4 linked regions of the Homo sapiens genome follow. The protein of the gene in region 2 interacts with the protein of the main gene of each other region in a biochemical or structural test. Each region holds a gene or a part of one and is shown on either strand. Other genes may lie near its edges.

Region 1 (3,500 bases), on a different chromosome or scaffold from region 2:
GGTTGAACTAGTTTACAGTCCTACCAAGAGTTTAAAAGTGTTCCTTTTTCTCCACATCCTCTCCAGCACCTGTTGTTTCCTGACTTTTTAATGATCACCATTCTAACTGGTGTGAGATGGTATCTCATTGTGGTTTTGATTTGCATTTCTCTGATGACCAGTGATGATGAACGTTTTTTCACGTGTCTGTTGCCTGCATAAATGTCTTCCTTTGAGAAGTGTCTGTTCATATCCATTGCCCACTTTTTGATGGGGTTGTTTGTTTTTTTCTTGTAAATTTGTTTGAGTTCTTTGTAGATTCTGGATATTAGCCCTTTGTCAGATGGGTAGATTGCAAAAATTTTCTCCCATTCTGTAGGTTGCCTGTTTACTCTGATGGTAGTTTCTTTTGCTGTGCAGAAGCTCTTTAGTTTAATTAGATCCCATTTGTCTACTTTGGCTTTTGTTGCCATTGCTTTTGGTGTTTTAGTCATGAAGTCCTTGCCCATGGCTATGTCCTGAATGGTATTGCCTAGGTTTTCTTCTAGGGTTTTTATGGTTTTAGGTCTAACATTTAAGTCTTCAATCCATCTTGAATTAATTTTTGTATAAGGTGTAAGGAAGGGATCCAGTTTCAGCTTTCTACATATGCCAGTTTTCCCAGCACCATTTATTAAATAGGGAATCCGTTCTCCATTTCTTGTTTTTGTCCGGTTTGTCAAAGATCAGATGGTTGTAGATGTGTGGTATTATTTCTGAGGCCTCTGTTCTGCTCCATTGGTCTATATCTCTGTTTTGGTACCAGTACCATGCTGTTTTGGTTACTGAAGCCTTGTAGTGTAGTTTGAAGTCAGGTAATGTGATGCCTCCAGCTTTGTTCTTTTTGCTTAGGATTGTCTTGGCAATGTGGGCTCTTTTTTGGTTCCATATGAACTTTAAAGTAGTTTTTTCCAATTCTGTGAAGAAAGTCATTGGTAGCTTGATGGGGATGGCATTGAATCTATAAATTACCTTGGCCTGCCCAGCTTTTAAAGCCAGCTTCTCTGGAAAGTCTTTCCAGGATTCTGTAGAGGTTTTCTTCTTATTATTTATTTATTTACTTGTTTTTTTCTGAGGATTTCCATAGCACTTTCAAAATTATCCTGTTATAGAGCACCTGACTGGCTTGAAACTACGCATTTCCATATGTGTGTCTTCTTTAGGGTGTAAGCTTCTGGGCAGTGATTAACGCATTTATTTTTCATTTTCTCCTCCCAAAACAGGTAGTGAACATTCTACATAAATGCTCTTTGAATAAACTCACTTTTGGATGTTGTATGGGGATGGGGGAGTGGAGGAGGTAGTTCGTAGGTATTTGGGGCTCCCAGGAGGAGGACAATATCATATACTTGGAAACGTAAGGCTTGCTTTTGAGGCTGACTCTCACTTTTTCTGTGAGTCCTGTGGACAGTATTTAATTGCCTCTGTCTTTGTTTGTTTGCCTGAAAAGGAAAAACTAGTTTAATGCCAATTTATTTGGTTGGCTGGAAATAAAAACTTCTGATTCCTGTGTTTTTATAACACAATCTAATTGTGGCATTGGCACCTAAAGTATTATTTTGTATTAAAATTAATTGCTTTTTAGAAATATTGGGTAAAGTCCATTTTGTTTAAAGTTCCAACCCTTTCAAAAGCTATAAAGTCCAAATGAGATTGGAACACCAGGAAGACAGGGGGAAGAGTCATTCTGTTACCTGGTTTTCTCCCCTGCCTGACTTCTGACCTGAGCAGAGGCCAAGGGGGTGCACTTGTGTGTGAGTGTGTGCACATGTATTGTGGCTGCAGGGTAGATATTGATGGGAAATACCACATACTGACCAGCACCTGAGTGTTGAAAAGGAATGGAAGTGGGGACATGAGATGAAGGAAGAGGAAAGATGGAAGAAATCAGAAGTAGCAGTTTGCAACTAAGAGCAGTTAAAATGTAAAGATGAGATTGATGCAATAGTTCAGTTCATTCAGAACTATTGAAACTATTGATTCAATAGTTCAGACAGGATGATTAAACACACCTACACACACACACACACACACACACACACCCCAACCTAAGTTCATGCTTGCTTCACCCTGAGTCCAAAGCTCTTATGCTAAGGTTGGATCAAATCCAAATTTATTTGTGTCTCTGTCTTACCCAGTTTACCCAATTCTCTCCATCTTTAAGTTTCTTTGGTGCCACCTTCTGGTTGGCCCAGTTCTATGAAGTCTGAATATTCCTTCCTGCCTCCCAGTCTCTGAAATGTCCTCGAGTGAAAGATGAGGTTGTGGAGGACCCCGGGACTTGCCTGCACATACTACTCTGCCTTCCAACATCTGCAGACCCTAGTATAAGCTCTGGAGAGGTCTTATGATGTGAGGATAGTGAGAAACAGGAATATTTTGTTCCATAATAAACAACCTCTTAAGTATAGAGTACTGTTGTGCAAATTATGTCATGATTGTGTTTTCTTGGTTCACATTTATTTTACTTAGTTTTCTGAACCCTAACCATAACCCTAACCCTACTTGTTTTTTTCTGAACTGCACTAACATTTATTTTAAACTTTAAAGAATTTGCACTGCTTTAGACTGTTGTTCTATATTTAGAGTGTTGCCTTTACACTTTAAAAAAATATATAAGCTCACTTTTTTGTTTAAGTAAGAGACACCCTTCTGTTGAAAAATATCTTAGGAGGAAGCGAAATATCTTAGGAGGAAGCAAAACATCCAACAGTGAAGATACTTTGGTTAATACAGTTGTTCCCCACTTCCTTGTCTCAGCCACTCAATTCCCCTTTCCTCCTGTGCTCTAAGAGACCCAGAAGACCTGTCCAAGACCCCCACTAAGGGCATACAGTTTCAGAGCTGCTGCAACAGGCACTTTGTAGGCCGCTGGGAAACTGGATGAGGCTCCATCTGTTTATAGAAATGAACACATGCACGATAATTTATATCTCTAGATAGAGTTTCCAGGACTTTTCATTTTGCTCATTTGCTAATTTTCCAAACTGGAGCATATTTTTCTTGTTTGACTACATTTTTCAGTTAAAATTATACATGTTTATGAAAAAAAGGATAATATAATAGAAAAAATATCTGTAGGATCATGAGATTATAGATAATGATTTGTCCTTTTATTTTCCCAAATGTTCTCAATTGTAAGAACAAAAAGGCTGAGGGAAATTGAGATGAGTTGGTGAACTGCAATATTTTATGAAATAGCCCACGTTTTTATAGGGTTTAATAGATATAAACAACAATGTAGGACTTATAATAATGCACTAAAATTATAATAATAGTAAACTGTAATAGCTTTTTAGCACTTTAAGCAAGGTGCCCCCCTAGATTAGGCTCCTACCTTCCACAGAACTGGTTGATAGGGATGCTATCTTTCTTGATGATTACATTTCAAAAGGATGGCTTCCAGGTCTTTGAGAGACTGTCCTGGGATGTAAAACTAGCAAGAAGCTTTTTTAAAAGATTTACATCTCAAAGGGGCTGAT
Region 2 (4,109 bases):
CTTTGGCATTATTTCCAATTCCCTCTGGTTTCCATTTGCTTCCTCCCTCTAGCCCCCTGGCCAGGTCCGATTTCAACACCAAGTTTCTGAGCTTTTCCCATTTTGTCCACCGTCTCTAGAACATTTCTGCTTCTTTTACCTTTCAAAGAATCCAAACTTGAACTCTACTTACTCCTGCCCATCACCAGCCTGAGCTCAGAGTTGCTGAGAAGGGAAAGCACCCTCATAAGGAAGCTCCTCCTTTCCCTACATCATTAGACTTGAGCACAGACAGCATCTCCATTTCCACACTGCTCTGGCCAGGTTGTGCCTCAGTCAATTACACAACTGTGTCTTAGTAGCCTTGGTAGGGCCCAAATCAGGATATTCTCTAGGAAGATTCACTTTGTACTGAGCCAAGCATAATCTCACTGCATCGAAAATAGAAAATGATCATCTGATCATTCTGGTTCAGACTGTCAGCCCTGAGCAGGTGGGTCAGTTTGCATCACCTGAGTGCAGATTGCAAGGACAACAGTGAGGCTGCATAAAAAGAACCTATGACAGGATGCACATGAGAGAGACAAATGTCTTCACATTGAAGAAGGGGAGGAGTGCGCCATTGGTTTTCCATCCTCCAGAGGCACTGAGAAAGCTCCTACAGAAACTGTGCCCCCTCCTTCTTTGAAACACTTCCCATCCTTAAGCCTTGGTAGGAAGGAGAGAAATCTGGAAGCCCAGAATCCTATGGAATGCTGAGTCTCCCTTCTCCTTACCCCTTAGTGTTGGAATTTTCATTCCCCAAAATCTTGCATTTGACCTTCCTGCACACTGACTGGAGAGAAGCATCTTCATATTCACAGGAATGAGCCTTAGATAAGACTTTGCTCCTCTCATGTGGGCCCCAGGAAACTGAAATCCAAGCTTTTTACCAATGCTTGCCCTTCCTTAAGTACATTAAATACATTCCCAATAGGTGGAAAGATTTGTAAACAGCTAGGCCATTCTCCCTCCTTCTAACCCTCATCTCCAGGGCCTAAGAAAGCCCAGCTCTGTTATCTGGGGCTTGACTTTCCCTGTCTTCCCCATCCCAGTATCCTTGCAGGAAACAGCCGGTCTCGCTCTCTGCTCTCAGAAGGAAAGTTTCCTTATCACCTGTGAATCACAAACCCAGAGAGTGGCCAAACATAGCCAGGCTGATGCAAGACCCTGGGAAGAGGAAAGCTGCAGGTGTGTTTGTGCTGGGAGGAGTGGTGACCCTCACCTCACAGTCACCTCCTCTCTGGATCCTCGTGAGGTATAAAGACGAGTCCTCCACCACCAGTCAGGCACACTCTACCACCATGAATCCACTCCTGATCCTTACCTTTGTGGCAGCTGCTCGTGAGTATCATGCCCTGCCTCAGGCCCCAACCACCCCCCCGTTCCTGGCCGACAAATGCCCTTCCATTCTTACCACCTCTCCTCTTTTGACTGTGCTCTGATATTCCGTTTCCTCCATCTGGCATATCTCCTTCCCATCCTCCTTGGGCTCTTTTTAAGTCTCACCTGTTCACCTTCTCCTTGACTTCACTCCCACCACTGTCATTCATCCATATCCGAGTTGTGGTTGGAGAAGCTGGGAAGGGGGCCAGGTGGGGCTGTCCCACGAAATGAAGCAGCAGGCTTCAGGCTTGGCTCCAACAGCAACAGAATAGCACCACTATAGCTGCTCCTAACCTCGAATGCACCTGGGGAGGTTGAAAAATTACTCATGCCAGAGACTCAGCTCTAGAAATTCTAACTTCAATTGTCTGGGGTAGAGCTTGTGTTCTGGGCTTTTAAGCTTCCCAGGTGATTTTTAATATTTCCAGCCATGCAGCCAAGGTTAAGAATTGCTGTCCTATTGGCCAATAACAAAGTCTACCTTTGTTCTGCCAAAGTGAGCCTGGGGGCTGCCCTCAACTCTGCCCTGACTGCACAGATCTGAGCTATGGGGGAAGGTGGTCATGGCCAGGTCTATGCAGACAGGGGGTTTTCCTAGCTTGGCAAAAGAATCCTGACAATCCAGGGCCCAAATAGCCAGGGGAAGTACACAGGTGATGAATAAAAGAGAGAAGCACTCAGTGGGAGAGACAACCACATCCCAACTCCTATCCCACTGGAAGCATTGTGAGGACATTCCTTGCGACTTCAGCCTGGTGACCCCAGGAGAGCTCGGATCCTCCGCAGGGTACCTAGCTATGTGCCCTGCAGGCACAGAGACTTGGGAGCCACAGGCAGTGATGATCACCAGGGGTGGCAGAGCTCCCTCCCTTGCCTAGCCTCACTGTGCTTGTTAAGGATTTCTAATTAGCAGAAAGCAATCACAGGCTGGGAGCGCCACCCCTAACATGCTATTGACTTGCCTTCTCCCTTCCCATCTCCACTCCAGTTGCTGCCCCCTTTGATGATGATGACAAGATCGTTGGGGGCTACAACTGTGAGGAGAATTCTGTCCCCTACCAGGTGTCCCTGAATTCTGGCTACCACTTCTGTGGTGGCTCCCTCATCAACGAACAGTGGGTGGTATCAGCAGGCCACTGCTACAAGTCGTAAGTGTGGGGCCCCCGACTGCAAAGCTCCCGGCCAGTCTGCCTGGGAGAGCTTGGCTTCAGCCCAGGGAACTACTGAGGTTGGGTAAGATGGATGGGAGAGGTGGTGGAGAAGAAAACTTGTTGGCAGCTGCGGACTCTCCAGAGCAGAGAGTGAACACAAGACAGGAACCTCTCACACCCAGGCAAATCCATGAAACAGCAAGGGTTGTGGTCATAAAAGCAGGCAGGGATGATCTTGGGGTGGTGAGAGCTAGTGAGAAAAGCAGGCAAGTATCTTTTGCTGGTTAGCTACACATTAAAGCCAACTAAGAAAGACTTTTTAAAAATACAGATGCCTTTGTCCTATCCCAGGGCAATTAAGTCAAAATTTTCAGGAAGAGGGTGTGAATATCAGTGAGAATTTTACACTCTACCTCTGCTAACTGTAGAGTGTATAGACAGAGCTGAGAACTGCTGCCTACACCAAGAACTCTCAAACCTGAGTATGCATCAGAACGCCCTGCAGGCTTGTTAAGGCACAAATCACTGGGCCCCTTCCCCAAGGTTCTGATCAGTAGGTGGGGGTAAGGACCAAGAATTCACATTTCTAACAAGTTCCCAGGAGATGCTAATGCTATGGCTACCCTTGGATTAGATTACACAGAAGGGTGGTTCTCACCAGGCCAAGAATGGAGGGAGGAACAGGCACTGTGCACAGTTGGCAAAGGCCTGGGGTGAAGAACGCTGGGAAAACTTCAAGGAGCTCCTTGTGCCCACAGTGCTAGTGACTGTGGAGATTGTGGGAAAGAGTCTGGGGAGGCAGGTTGAGGAGCAGCCTCTGGTGGGATCCCTTTGACTCTTCCCCACCCCACTACCACCAACCTCTGGAGCAGATAGGTCCTGGGTCTCATACCTTCACTGACCCACATCCCTCTGCTGCCCATGCGATATGGCCACACACCCCACCCCATGCCTCCAGAGCTGTCCATGAGCAGAGAGCTTGAGGAACCTGGGGAAGGTGGGATAGGTGCCCTGGCTGTGGGAGAAGGTCTTCACCATGCCTGCCCTGCCCATCAGCCGCATCCAGGTGAGACTGGGAGAGCACAACATCGAAGTCCTGGAGGGGAATGAGCAGTTCATCAATGCAGCCAAGATCATCCGCCACCCCCAATACGACAGGAAGACTCTGAACAATGACATCATGTTAATCAAGCTCTCCTCACGTGCAGTAATCAACGCCCGCGTGTCCACCATCTCTCTGCCCACCGCCCCTCCAGCCACTGGCACGAAGTGCCTCATCTCTGGCTGGGGCAACACTGCGAGCTCTGGCGGTGAGTGGGACCCTTAGTCCTTCTACTTCCCTCCATCCTCACAATTTCCAGAACAAACCATGCCCCTTAACTTGAATCCTCTCACCTCCAGGCTTAAGACACATTTCGAGTGCCCATTACACACAGACTCTGCACTGGGCACCAGAGAGATGCAAACTATCAAGGACTTGGCTCCTAAAATCAAGAGACAGGACAAATGGAGAACTTGATATGATCACATCTTGGGAGGGGTTCAACAATGATC
Region 3 (3,500 bases), on a different chromosome or scaffold from region 2:
AACTTATAGCTTGTTGCTCTTGGTTCCAAGGAAGGGCATTTGTGACATTTTATTAAATTCATTAATTTTTTAGACACACCATTGTCAGCTTGAACAAATTTATTAATTGTAATTATTTGTCAGCTGTTCTTGATCCTGTTAATACCATACTTATAACTAAAAGCATTTCCATGGATGTTGTAACTTGGCCTGTAAAAAAAATGTTTAGATAGAAACCATGAAACTCAAATATGAATTGTTTAATTTTCAAACCATTTTGCATTCAGAAAATGTCCTAAGCTTAATTCATACTCCTAGTGATCAAGGAAACATGTTAAAGCTCCTTATTTTTAAACTTAAAGTGACAATGACATTTTCAAAGATTTTAAAATTCTTATAAACAGGTTAAAATACTTATATACTGTATAATTTGATTTCTGATTTCTAAGCTCTACTTTTCTATTGGAAATTACAGATTTTTTTCAGACTTAATTCTTAAGATGTTTTCATTGTTTCACAGTAGCAACTAAACATGTAGTAAAATGATTTAAATTCAATTAAAATTTTTTTCCTTAGTCATTTAAAAGGGAAGAAATCAATTTTTAGTAGTACTCATTCCAAAGATTCCAATTTTCCTTTTTTTTAATCTTTTATTTTTTGGTGGAGGGAGGCAGGATCTGGCTCTGAGGCCCAGGCTGGAGTGTAGTGGTTCTGTCTCGGCTCACTGCAACCTCCACCTCCCAGGCTGAAGACTCAAACCATCCCCATGCATCACCCTCTCAAGTAGCTGAGACTATAGGCACATGCTACCACACCCAGCTTATTTTTTGTGTTTTTGTAGAGATGGGGTTTCTCCATCTTGCCCAGGCTGGTCTTGAACTCCTGAGCTCAAGTGATCTGCCTGCCTCAGCCTCCCCAAAGTGCTGGGATTACAGGTGTGAACTACCACACCGGGCCCCAATTTTCCAATGAGTGATATAAAAAAGGCCTCCACGCAGGCGCCTGTAGTCCCAACTACTCCGGAGGCTGAGGCCAGAGAATGGCATGAACCCGGGAGGCGGAGCTTGCACTAAGCTGAGTGCTGCTGCACTCCAGCTTGGGCGACAGAGCGAGACCGTCTCAAAAAAAAAAAAAAAAAAAAAAGCCTCCATGATTGGGGCTTGCATAGTGAAGACCATGTGAAATTGAAAGACTACGAAACTACTTTTCTTTTACGTATTGGCCCATAATTAACATGTGTATTGAATAGCTTTGTTTATCTAAGTTCATCAGATTTATCCAGGTTTATGTATTTCAGATCATCTGATTTTATTAGGAAAATGCTAGAAAAATTTCATGGCACCATTGTCTAATTTTGAAAAAACGAACCTTTCTTTACTGTGATTAAAAATTGTTTTTTAGGCCAGGTGTGGTGGCTCACGCCTGTAATCCCAGCACTTTGGGAGGCTGAGGCTGGCAGATCACGAGGTCAAGAGGTTGAGACCATCCTGGCAAACATGGTGAAACCCCTTCTCTACTAAAAATACAAAAATTAGCTGGCGTGGTGGTGCACACCTGTAGTCCTAGCTACTCAGGAGGCTGAGGCAGGAGAATTGTTTGAACCTAGGAGGCAGAGGTTGCAGTGAGCTGAGATCGTGCCACTCCAGCCCACCCTGGGTAACAGAGCGAGACTCCATCTCAAGGAAAAAAATGAAAAATTGTTTTCAAAAATAGTACGTGTGGTACAGATATAAGTAATTATATTTTTATAAATGAAACACTTTGGAAATGTAGCCATTTTTTGTTTTTTTATGTTTATTTTTCAGCTATGGGTGGATAAAGCATGAATATAACTTTTCTTATGTGTTAGTAGAAAATTAGAAAGCTTGAATTTAATTAACGTATTTTTCTACCCGATGCCACCAAATTACTTACTACTTTATTCCTTTGGCTTCATAAAATTACATATCACCATTCACCCCAATTTATAGCAGATATATGTGGACATTGTTTTCTCAAGTGCTAATATAATAGAAATCAATGTTGCATGCCTAATTACATATATTTTAAATGTTTTATATGCATAATTATTTTAAGTTTATATTTGTATTATTCATCAGTCCTTAATAAAATACAAAAGTAATGTATTTTTAAAAATCATTTCTTATAGGTATGTTCACATACGATGAATCTACAAAATTGTTTTGGTTTAATCCATCTTCTTTTGAAACTGAGGGTCAGTTTACTCTGATTGGCATAGTACTGGGTCTGGCTATTTACAATAACTGTATACTGGATGTACATTTTCCCATGGTTGTCTACAGGAAGCTAATGGGGAAAAAAGGAACTTTTCGTGACTTGGGAGACTCTCACCCAGTAAGTTCTTTGTCATTTTTTTAATTCAGTCTCTTAGATTTTATTTAAATGCAAAAATTTAATTTATGTCAAAATTTTAAAGTTTTTGTTTAGAATCTTTGTTGATACTCTTATCAATAAGATAAAAATGTTTTAATCTGACCGAAGTACCAGAAACACTTAAAAACTCAAAGGGGGACATTTTTATATATTGCTGTCAGCACGAAGCTTTTGTAAGATTGATTTCATAGAGAAGTGTTTCTAAACATTTTGTTTGTGTTTTAGTGAAATCTTAAGAGATAGGTAAAAATCAGAGTAGCCCTGGCTAAGGGTCTTGGTAGTTACAACGAGTGTGCCTGCTCCTACCACCCCCACCCCCACCTTGAGACACCACAGAATTTCTCATAGAGCACAGTGTGAATTCTATTGCTAAATTGGTGGTATGGGGTTTCTCAGCAGAGAATGGGACATCACAGTGACTGACAATCTTTCTTTTATAGGTTGGAAACTATTTGGGGGACTGGAGGGATACTGTCTACACTTTTTACAATTTTTATTGATAAGATTTTTGTTGTCTTCTAAGAAGAGTGATATAAATTATTTGTTGTATTTTGTAGTTCTATGGTGGCCTCAATTTACCATTTCTGGTTGCTAGGTTCTATATCAGAGTTTAAAAGATTTATTGGAGTATGAAGGGAATGTGGAAGATGACATGATGATCACTTTCCAGATATCACAGACAGATCTTTTTGGTAACCCAATGATGTATGATCTAAAGGAAAATGGTGATAAAATTCCAATTACAAATGAAAACAGGAAGGTAATAAATGTTTTTATGTCACATTTTGTCTCTTCATTAACACTTTCAAAGCATGTATGCTTATAATTTTTAAAGAAGTATCTAATATAGTCTGTACAAAAAAAAAACAAGTAACTAAGTTTATGTAAATGCTAGAGTCCACTTTTCTAAATCTTGGATATAAGTTGGTATGAAAGCACACAGTTGGGCACTAAAGCCCCTTTTAGAGAAAGAGGACATGAAGCAGGAGATAGTTAATAGCTAAGTGTGGTTGTAGTATAAAGCAAGAAGCAGGGTGTTTCTTGTATTAAGCTGTAAGCAGGAACCTCATGATTAAGGTCTTTATCACAGAACAAATAAAAATTACATTTAATTTACACATGTATAT
Region 4 (4,144 bases), on a different chromosome or scaffold from region 2:
CAGGGAGTGAGGAGCTGGACAGTGAGGATGGGAAGGAGCCTGATGCAGGGAGTGAGGAGCAGGACAGTGAGGGTGGGAAGTGGCCTGATGCAGGGAGTGAGGCGCAGGACAGTGAGGGTGGGAAGGAGCCTGATGCAGGGAGTGAGGAGCAGGACAGTGAGGGTGGGAGGCGGCCTGATGCAGGGAGTGAGGAGCCGGACAGTGAGGGTGGGAGGCGGCCTGATGCAGGGAGTGAGGAGCAGGACAGTGAGGGTGGGAAGTGGCCCGATGCAGGGAGTGAGGCGCAGGACAGTGAGGGTGGGAAGGAGCCTGATGCAGGGAGTGAGGAGCCGGACAGTGAGGGTGGGAAGGAGCCTGATGCAGGGAGTGAGGAGCCGGACAGTGAGGGTGGGAAGGAGCCTGATGCAGGGAGTGAGGAGCAGGTGTGAGGGCGGGAAGCGGCCTGATGCAGGGAGTGAGGAGCAGGACAGTGAGGGTGGGAAGGGGCCTGATACAGGGAGTGAGGAGCAGGACAGTGAGGGTGGGAAGGAGCCTGATGCAGGGAGTGAGGAGCCGGACAGTGAGGGTGGGAAGCAGCCTGATCTTTGCACGGGCTGCCAGGCTTCTGGTTCATACAGCCCCAGGTCAGTTTCCAGAACCCTCGCTCTTGGGTAGGGGAAAGAGACATTGCTCTGGAGTGGCAGGACGGTGGGAGAAGTTGAGTCCCTCTCATTTCTCCTCCCTCACCCCCTGCCTTCCATCCCAGTCTGAAGGCAGCCAACCTGATCCTGGGCTTGGAAGGTTGGGGGTGGGCTTCCTATCCTGGGCTCTCTGCATAGGCTCTTGTGGCTTCCCCTTTCCTCCCCTCAGGAGCGGGAGGCAGCTCTCTGGGAGAAGAAAGGACATTGGGAGTGAGAATCTGGATGTGCCTCAGCCCAGCTCTGTGTCCTTGGGCAGGTCACATGGCCTCTCTGAGCCTGGCTGAACCAGGGATAATCCACACCTCGTGGGGTCTCTGGAAGGCTTAACACAGTGCTAGGTTCCTGTGCTTTCTGGATCCGCCCTCTTGGCTAGCCAGATCCAGTCTCTTCAACTCTCTCCTCCTGAACTTTCTCTTTCCAGGCTCGGGGGGGGGGACCCAAATATAGGGGGTTCTGCGTGGCTGCCTCAGGGTTAGATGCCCTGGTGGGAAAGGGGCTTCTGGCTTCAAGATCAATGTTTAACTGGATGTGCAAGTCAATATTTACCAGAAGAGAAAGCAATCTGAACAGGGGTTGGCTGAGAGTAAAGGTCCTGGTGGGAGGGGAGGGGTGGGCTGGGCCAGCTGGAGCCTGGGCAGAGAGTGAGGAGCACCCAAGTGGGGCCAGAGGAACGTTGTGTGTGGCAGCAAGGAGCCCGCAGAGGTATGAGGGGAGGGGCTGCTCGGCCTGCTCCTTGGGTAGGAGAGGAGGAGGGAGCTGCCTCCCTGGCTGAGGGGTCTGGGATTTATTCAGGAGGCCTGTCACTCCCCAGCCTCTTCTGGGACTTGAAAAACTGGAGCCTGTTCTTGGCAAGAAGATTCTAATGCCCAGGTCGGAGTCGGGGCCCTGGCCAAGGGCTCTTGTGTGGGATGGGGGTGGGGCCGGGGGGACCAAAGGATCCTCCAGAAGGGTTGGCCCCAAGATGGGGGTGGGCTGGAGGTAGCTGAGACCTGCTCTGACTTATCCTCCTGAGACCAACACCTGCCCTTCCCAGAGCCAGCCTGGAGCAGAGGCCTGTGATGCTCCTAAGTGCAGAGGTGGCTCTGGCCAGAGTCATTCACTGGGCTCTGCTGCTGGGTCAAAAGGCAGCTCTCTGGCTGCCTTGCCACCCATGGTGAGACCTCAGGGCCTCACAGGTATGTCCAGCCTTGTGGGCAAGACCTGACCAGCCTGAGAAAGACGGGTTGGGGCCAGGCGTGGTGGCTCATGCCTGTCATCCCAGCACTTTGGGAGGCTGAGGCAGGTGGATCACCTGAGGTCAGGAGTTCGAGACCAGCCTGACCAACATGGAGAAACCCTGTCTCTACTAAAAATACAAAATTAGCCAGGCATGGTGGCACATGCCTGTAATCCCAGCTACTCGGGAGGCTGAGGCAGGAGAATCGCTTTAACCCAGGAGGTGGAGGTTGCAGTGAGCCGAGATCGTGCCATTGCACTCCAGCCTGCATGATAAGAATGAAACTCCATCTCAAAAAAAAAAAAAAAAAAAAAAAAGACAGGCTAAATGGATGCAGCAGGCTGGGTAGGAGCTCTGTGTTGGAGCTCTGCGGTGGAGGCTTCAGGGCAGGCTTCCCAGAAGAGGTGGCCTTGAGCCAAGCTGACCCCAGCCATCGGGGGAGTGCCAAGCATTGTACTCAGGGTTTACAAAGATGGTCTTATTTATTTTTTTGAGACAGAGTCTTGCTCTGTCGCCCAGGCTGGAGTGCAGTGGCGTGATCTCGGCTCACTGCAACCTCCGCCTCCCGGGTTCAAGCAGTTCTCTGCCTCAGCCTCCCGAGTAGCTGGGATTACAGGGGCCCACCACCACGCCTGGCTAATTTTGTATTTTCAGTAGAGATGGGGTTTTACCATGTTGGCCAGGCTGGTCTTGAACTCCCGACCTCAGGTGATCCACCTGCCCCTGGCCTCCCAAAGTGCTGGGATTACAGGCTTGAGCCACCGTGCCTGGCCACAAAGATGGTCTTTTGCCGGGTGCAGTGGCTCATGCCTGTAATCCCAGTACTTTGGGAGGCCGAGGCAGGAGGATCACCTGAGGTCGGGAGTTTAAGACCAGCCTGACTAACACAGAGAAACCCCGTTTCTACTAAGAAATACAGAATTAGCCAGGCGTGGTGGTGCATGCCTGTAATCCCAGCTATTCGGGAGGCTGAAGCAGGAGAATCGCTTGAACCTGGGAGGTGGAGGTTGCGGTGAGCCGAGATCCTGCCACTGCACTCCAGCCTGGTCAACGAGAGCGAAACTCCGTCTCAAAAAATAAACAACAAAAAATCCCAAAAAGACGGTCTTATTTTGGTCCTCACCATGCATGTGAGAAGAGTGAGGGACTTGTGCCACCGTTTTACAAGGTAAGGCCAAGCCTGGTGGAGTTACGGGAAATGCCGAGGTCCTTTGGCAAGAGGTAGCCTGGATTCAGACACAGATCTGATTCACAGCGCAGGGCCTTGTAGAATGAGAACGTTTTTGATTTGGTATCTCCCTCCTATTCACCAAAACACCCTCAGTGCATGAAATGCATGAAATATGAAACACCAGAAACTAAAAAGGGGGAGAAGCCAGGGCGGATGTCCCAGCTGCAGGAGTGGGAGCCGCTGCTCGTGTGTTTGGGGTCTGTTCTGATTCTGGAGCCTGCTTCTTCCCCTTGGCAATCATGACCCAGGACTTGGCGTTATCTGTGATCGCGTGGGTAGGATTCCCTGGCGGGCGTGGGGATGTGAGATGGGAACAGAGCTTTCTGTCCCTGCCACAGGAACATGGCGCTGCTCTGGGGGCTCCTGGTGCTCAGCTGGTCCTGCCTGCAAGGCCCCTGCTCCGTGGTGAGGCTGGGCTGAAGTCAAGGTGGGGTGGGGTGGAGGGGGAAGAAGAGGGGCGTTGGCATGGAGGGAGGGCTTGGCTCCGAGGGGACCTCCTATCCTCATCCCTTTCTCCACAGTTCTCCCCTGTGAGCGCCATGGAGCCCTTGGGCCGGCAGGTACTGGGGAGTGAGGAGCCTGTGATGGGGGGAAGGTCCCGGGGGTCTCACTGGTGGCTTGGGCAGGGTGGGGGGCCTGTGGGAAGGGTCGGTCTCCATCTGCTTGCTCCTTTCCGCAGCTAACTAGCGGGCCGAACCAGGAGCAGGTGTCCCCACTTACCCTCCTCAAGTTGGGCAACCAGGTACAACCAGGTGGGGCTGGGGAAGAGTGGGCGGGGCTAGAGGGAGGAGGGCCCATCGGCAGGGGTCGGGGGGTGGGGGCGCGTGCTGAGGCTGAGGCTCTGGAGTCCAGAGGCCAGAAGGGAGAGAGGGTGGGGAGGACCGAAGGTGGGCGCCAGGCCCCAGAATGCCAGTGCCCTCCGTCTGACGCTCCCTCTTCCCTGGGGCTGGGACAAGGCCCTGCTGTCCTCAGGCACAGGGGCTGTGACAAGGCCTTCAACACAGAACCTGGAGCTGA

Evidence for each region. The genes of interacting proteins can lie anywhere in the genome.
Region 1: the proteins of PRSS1 (region 2) and SERPINB8 form a complex in vitro, tested with the Homo sapiens proteins (one study listed by BioGRID).
Region 3: the proteins of PRSS1 (region 2) and UBE3A form a complex in vitro, tested with the Homo sapiens proteins (one large-scale study listed by BioGRID).
Region 4: of the proteins of PRSS1 (region 2) and SERPINF2, one has a biochemical effect on the other in vitro, tested with the Homo sapiens proteins (one study listed by BioGRID).

What each region holds. Positions count from the first base shown.
Region 1 is NC_000018.10:63,973,081-63,976,580, forward strand, and holds part of SERPINB8 (serpin B8), read left to right. Parts: intron 1-3,500. UniProt on the Homo sapiens protein: Has an important role in epithelial desmosome-mediated cell-cell adhesion.
Region 2 is NC_000007.14:142,748,163-142,752,271, forward strand, and holds the start of PRSS1 (serine protease 1 preproprotein), read left to right. Parts: upstream 1-1,309; 5' UTR 1,310-1,322; coding exon 1,323-1,362; intron 1,363-2,392; coding exon 2,393-2,552; intron 2,553-3,611; coding exon 3,612-3,865; intron 3,866-4,109. UniProt on the Homo sapiens protein: Has activity against the synthetic substrates Boc-Phe-Ser-Arg-Mec, Boc-Leu-Thr-Arg-Mec, Boc-Gln-Ala-Arg-Mec and Boc-Val-Pro-Arg-Mec. The single-chain form is more active than the two-chain form against all of these substrates.
Region 3 is NC_000015.10:25,355,525-25,359,024, reverse strand, and holds part of UBE3A (ubiquitin-protein ligase E3A), read left to right. Parts: intron 1-2,128; coding exon 2,129-2,334; intron 2,335-2,968; coding exon 2,969-3,133; intron 3,134-3,500. UniProt on the Homo sapiens protein: E3 ubiquitin-protein ligase which accepts ubiquitin from an E2 ubiquitin-conjugating enzyme in the form of a thioester and transfers it to its substrates.
Region 4 is NC_000017.11:1,741,527-1,745,670, forward strand, and holds the start of SERPINF2 (alpha-2-antiplasmin isoform a precursor), read left to right. Parts: upstream 1-1,344; 5' UTR 1,345-1,382; intron 1,383-1,472; exon of another isoform or gene 1,473-1,542; coding exon of another isoform or gene 1,543-1,550; intron 1,551-2,807; exon of another isoform or gene 2,808-3,020; coding exon of another isoform or gene 3,021-3,064; intron 3,065-3,465; coding exon of another isoform or gene 3,466-3,469; coding exon 3,470-3,532; intron 3,533-3,648; coding exon 3,649-3,687; intron 3,688-3,806; coding exon 3,807-3,869; coding exon of another isoform or gene 3,870-3,879; intron 3,880-4,144.